Regions from separate parts of the Homo sapiens genome. Here region 1 is linked to region 2. The links come from fine-mapping of genetic effects on gene expression. A gene starts in region 2. The other region holds a variant in brackets. All regions are shown on one strand. Distances are between the middles of the regions. Region 1 overlaps EBP (EBP cholestenol delta-isomerase). Region 2 holds the start of PORCN (porcupine O-acyltransferase).

Evidence for each region. PIP is the estimated chance that this variant, and not a neighbour inherited with it, causes the effect.
Region 1: its variant is the best candidate, but not a certain one, in a credible set for the expression of PORCN in whole blood (TOPMed, PIP 0.60).

What each region holds. Positions count from the first base shown.
Region 1 is chrX:48,527,734-48,530,639 of GRCh38, forward strand. EBP (EBP cholestenol delta-isomerase) reads left to right here. Exons shown (of 5, transcript NM_006579.3): 5 at 501-983. The coding sequence ends at 724. Among named protein-coding and RNA genes, the nearest start is that of EBP, 7.4 kb to the left of the region's middle. The variant A/C (reference allele first, on the strand shown) is at 1,344.
Region 2 is chrX:48,507,390-48,510,295 of GRCh38, forward strand. PORCN (porcupine O-acyltransferase) reads left to right here and starts at 1,603. Exons shown (of 15, transcript NM_203475.3): 1 at 1,603-1,714; 2 at 2,395-2,567. The coding sequence starts at 2,432. PORCN-DT (PORCN divergent transcript) reads right to left here and starts at 1,450. Exons shown (of 2, transcript NR_135596.1): 1 at 1,330-1,450. RefSeq lists a silencer at 1,430-1,829.

The sequences.
Region 1 (2,906 bases), 20 kb after region 2:
TAGCTGGGACTACAGGCATGTGCCACCGTGCCTGGCTAACTTTTGTATTTTTAGTAGAGATGGGGTTTCGCCATGTTGCCCAGGCTGGTCTCAAGCTCCTGAGCTCAAACAGTCCTCCTGGCTTGGCCTCCCGAAGTACTGGGATTACAGGTGTGAGCCACTGTGCCCGGCCTCAGTCATCTTGTGTTATTAAATTGTTAGCTTTCTTTAGTTCTAGCGATATGAGTTATCTTTAGTCCCAGAATCCTAAGCTGTCTTGGATTTGAGGATTTTGAACTTCCTTAAATCTGAAGGTGTGAGCTCTCCTGAGTTCTGAAATTCTCAGCTCTCTGGTGTCTGGAATCTCACTTTTCTGATTTCTCAGATTTTCAGCTCTGTGATTTCAGAATACTTAGCTCTGAGACCTTGAATGATGACTTGGAAAGTGCTTTGGAATAGAGAATTGGCGAAAGTGTCCCCTTCCTCACTGGGGCTTCTCCTTCCCCTCCTGCCACCCACAGGCCAGATCTATGGGGATGTGCTCTACTTCCTGACAGAGCACCGCGACGGATTCCAGCACGGAGAGCTGGGCCACCCTCTCTACTTCTGGTTTTACTTTGTCTTCATGAATGCCCTGTGGCTGGTGCTGCCTGGAGTCCTTGTGCTTGATGCTGTGAAGCACCTCACTCATGCCCAGAGCACGCTGGATGCCAAGGCCACAAAAGCCAAGAGCAAGAAGAACTGAGGAGTGGTGGACCAGGCTCGAACACTGGCCGAGGAGGAGCTCTCTGCCTGCCAGAAGAGTCTAGTCCTGCTCCCACAGTTTGGAGGGACAAAGCTAATTGATCTGTCACACTCAGGCTCATGGGCAGGCACAAGAAGGGGAATAAAGGGGCTGTGTGAAGGCACTGCTGGGAGCCATTAGAACACAGATACAAGAGAAGCCAGGAGGTCTATGATGGTGACGATTTTTAAAATCAGGAAATAAAAGATCTTGACTCTAACACTGAGAGATCCTTAATTACTAACCCCAGAGATGCGCTATGACTGACCCCACAGATCCCACCATCATTCACTTATTCCAGACCCCCATCAGCATCTAAAGACCTCCCACCTCTGACCTCACAAACCCCTATCACTGACCCCCCGCCAGACCCCATAACTCACTACACAGACCCTATCACTGGCCCCACAGTCCCCTGGTCTTAACTCGAGCTGCCATAACAGAATGCCACAGACTAGGCTTAAACCACCGAAGTTCATTTTCTCACAGTTCTGGAGTCCAAGATCAAGGTGTCAGCAGGTTTGACTTCTCCTGAGGCCCCTGTCCGTAGCTTGCAGGTGGCCACCTTCTCAGTGTCCTC[A/C]CATGGTCTCTATGAACTAGCGTCCCTGTCCCTGGTGTCTCTCTGTGTGTCCAAATTTCCTTTTTTTTTTTTTTTTTTTGAGACAGGGCCTCGCTCTGTGTCAGGCTGGAGTGCAGTGGTATGATCATGGTTCACTGCAGCCTCTACCTCCCTGGCTCCAGCGATCCTCCTGCCTCAGCCTCCTAAGTAGCTGGGACTACAGGTGTGCACTACCACACATGGCTATATTTATTTTTTTTTATAGCAATGGACTCTCACTATGTTGCCCAGGCTGGTCTCAAACACCTGGGCTCAAGTGATCCTCCCACCTCAACCTTCCAAGTAACTGGGACAACAGGCACATGCCATTATACCTAATTTTTGTTTTGTTTTTTTTTTTTGAGACGGAGTTTCACTCTTGTTGCCCAGGCTGGAGTGCAATGGCACGATCTTGGCTCACCACAACCTCTGCCTCCTGGGTTAAAGCAATTCTCCTGCCTCAGCCTCCCGGGTAGGTGGGATCACAGGCATGTGCCACCATGCTCAGCTAATTTTGTATTTTTAGTAGAGACGGGGTTTCTCCATGTTGGTCAAGCTGGTCGCGAACTCCCGACCTCAGGTGATCTACCCGCCTCTGCCTCCCAAAGTGCCAGGATTACAGGTGTGAACCACCATGTCCGGCAATATTTTTTCAATTTTTTGTAGAGATGGGGTCTCACTATGTTGCCCAAGCTGATCTCAAACTCCTAGGCTCAAGTGGTCCTCCCACCTCAGCCTCCCAAGTAGCTGAGACTACAGGTGTGAACTACCATGCCTAGCCCAAATTTCCTTTTATGAGGACACCATTTGACCAGCCTGGGCAACATGGTGAAACCCCATCTCTACAAAAAAAATTTTGAAAATTAGCTGGGCATCATGAGGCCACGGTGGGAGGATCATCTGAGCTAGGGAGGTGTAGGCTGCAGTGAGCCATGATCACGGTGAGAGCCTGTCTTAAAAAAAAAAAGGAGGTGGGGGGTGGGCACCAGTCAGGCACAGTGGCTCATGCCTATAATCCCAGGCTGACACAAGTGGATCACCTGAGGTCAGGAGTTTGAGACCAGCCTGGCCAACATGGTAAAACTCCATCTCTACTAAAAATACAAAAATTAGCCATGCATGGTGGCACATGCCTGTAATCCCAGCTACTTGGGAGGCTGAGGCAGGAGAATCACTTGAACCTGGGAAGTTGAGGTGGCAGTGAGCCAACATCATGGCACTACTGCACTCCAGTCTGGGCAACAGAGTGAGACTCTGTCCCAAAAAAAAAAGTGGGGGGCACCATTTGTATTGGATTAGGCCCACTCTATGAGTCCCATTTTAACTTAACCACCCTTTTAAAGTCCCTATCTCCAAATATAGTCACATTCTGTGGTATTGGGGGTTAGGGCTTTAACATATGAATTTGGGGAGGACACAGTTCAGTCTATAACATTCTGCTCTCTCTGGCCTCCCAGAATTCATGTCCTTGCATGCAAAATACCTTCACCCCCATCCCAGCAGCCCAAAACTCTCTTTTGTTTTTTTGGAGACAGGGTCTTGCTC
Region 2 (2,906 bases):
CAGGCCATTGTTAATCTGATTAAAATCTGTTTCAGTTGGCTGCCCAGGTCAGGGTGGCGTCCAGTTTGACCTGGGCTTCCTTCTCCCTTCCACGTCACAGCTAAGCATGTAGTGCAGTAAGCGCCCAGTAAGTGCTCTTTTGGAAAAATAGGCCCTTCATCAGCCTAGGTACAAAGGGGAATGCCTAGAAACTGCAGCAGTAGGGTAGGTAGAAGGCGGGTGCTACATAAATCTTTAGTGTTGGTGCAGATAGAGGTGCGGATGGGGCCAGTGTAAGCGCTTTCTTTTTTATTTTATTTATTTATTTATTTAGAGAAGGAGTTTCGCTCTTGTTTATTTATTTATTTATTTTGGAGAAGGAGTTTTGCTCTTGTCACCCAGGCTGGAGTGCAATGGCGTGATCTCGGCTCACTGCAACCTCCGTCTCCTGGGCTCAAGTGATTCTCCTGCCTCAGCCTCCGGAGTAGCTGGGATTACAGGCGCCCAGCTAAATTTTTTGTATTTTTAGTAGAGACAGGGTTTCGCCATATTGGCCAGCCTGGTCTCAAACTCATGACCTCAGGTGATCCATCCGCCTCGGCCTTCCAAAGTGCTGGGTTACAGGTGTGAGCCACCACGCCCAGTCTTTATTTATTTATTTTGAGACGGAGTTTCGCTCTTGTAGCCCACAATGACGCGATCTTGGCTCACTGCAACCTCTGCCTCCTGATTCTCCTGCTTTAACCTCCCGAGTAGCTGGGATTACAAGCGTGCGCCACCACGCCTGGCTAATTTTTGTATTTTTAGTAGAGACGGGGTTTCGCCATGTTGGCCAGGCTGGTCTCGAACTCCTGACCTCAAGCTATCCTCCTACCCTTGGCCTCCCGAAGTGCTGGGTTTATAGGCGTGAGCCACCGAGCCTGGCCCTTAAGAGCTTTATAAATGCCCCCCTTTTAAGTGCTCGGTACTAGCCTCCCTCTAGTTCACAGAGAACATTTACTAGTCGCTGGGGTCACCTTCGAAGCAAAGAGTCTGCTGGGGAATTAAGCATGCAAATCACTTCTCAACGACGACACGCCAAGTGCTCACAGCTCGTCCCCAGGGGAAGCACAGGCGCCTAATTTGTGTTCCTAGGTGACACAGTCATTACTTATAAATGTTCCTGGCCGGTCCCAGGAGGTGGGAGGGTTGGGAGTTACTTCGGTTCTCTCAAAGGTTGGGGAAGGAGAGATCTCGGTTTGTTTTCCCATCTGTGAAACGGGGACACCACGGTATTTAGAGGACGTGCGCGGGTGACTATTTGGGGGTGCAGCGGCTTCCCTCCTCCCTCCCCCATCTTTCCCTTCTCACTTCCAAGGCTTGGAAATTTGGAGATTCGGAAGTTTGTTCTTGGATGGCCAGAAATCCTCCGGAGGCAGACGGTCTGGGGCTGAAACCGCCACAGGCCGGAAAGGTGCGGGCGTGAACGTCCTGCGCGCCGACGTCCCCCCGCGCCGGTCTCCCCTCAATCCTCCTGCTCCCCTCCTCCGCGTCCCCGTCCCCGCCCCCCTCCTGCTCTCCCATTGGCCGAGCCGGCGGCCGGGCCGCCCCGGGATTTAAAGGGCCCGCTCGCCGCGCCGCTCTGGGAGCCGCTGCTGGTCCCGGCCTTGCGGCCTGCGGGGGAGGCTGCCCGGAGGAGGCAGCGGCGGCGGCAGCGCGTCCTCGGTCCCCAGGACCACGGCTTCTTTCCTGCCAGGTAGGTCGCCAGTAGTGCGCACGCGGCTCCCCAGCTCCCATCCCTGGGCCGGCCTCCCCAGGCGGATCTGTAGCGCGAGTGCTAGGACCCCCTCCCCATCACCTTTCCGACTCTCCCTCAGGCTATGTCTCCTACCACCACCTCCTTGCAGCCCCCGGACCTGGGCAGGACTTTGTTGGCGGCCTCTCGCCGGGTGGGGATGAGATGGGGGGCGCGGAGGATACAGGACACCCCCCCTCCCCGTGCCGCCGCATCCATACAAGGAGAGATGCACACGGCCCCCAAGTGTCACAGAATCCCCCTCTCTGCCCTCCACTCAGAGCGACTCTACCTTGGAAACCAGGGATTCCCCTTCCCGTCGCCCGCCCCATTTGATATATGGGCCTGAAATGTATGCCATCCCATCACCATCGGACTGGACTGTTCACAGCACTGGAGAGACAGAGGTCCTTCATTCACTCCAGGTCACAGGCTGTGCGTGTGCATGCCGAACACCCACATGCACACAGTTGGTGGCTCAGTCTGATGTACCTGACTTCTCACGCCTTCCCCCAGTCCTCCAGTACCGTGCCTCTACATGGGCTGGGCAGCCCCAAACTGAAATGTGAGTGCCAGAGTGCATCCTTTAAGCGAGGTCTGCCCCACGGACACCCGCTCCCTCTGTGTCCCTGCTTTGACAGATCTATCCATCTGGCCATCCATCCGTGGGGGTCTGCAATGGCCACCTTTAGCCGCCAGGAATTTTTCCAGCAGCTACTGCAAGGCTGTCTCCTGCCTACTGCCCAGCAGGGCCTTGACCAGATCTGGCTGCTCCTTGCCATCTGCCTCGCCTGCCGCCTCCTCTGGAGGCTCGGTAAGTGCCTGCCATACCGTGTGCCACCATGCCAGGCCATATCAGACCTCCCACATTCATCCATATCGAGCCACACCTTACCCTGTCACATCCTGCCAGGCCCTAGCATGTCCAAGCTGGACCCCAACATGTTCAGCCCCACCACATCCCACCAGGCCAAACCCCATTCCACCATACCACATCCTACTATGCCAGCCACCCCATGCCATGCCACACCGAGCCACATCCTGCCATGCCAAGCCATGCCCTTCAGTATTCCTGAGTTCTGGGATTCCAGAAAGCTGAGATTCTTGGATCTTGGGATTCTGAAATGTCTACATCCCAAGGTTATAAGACATT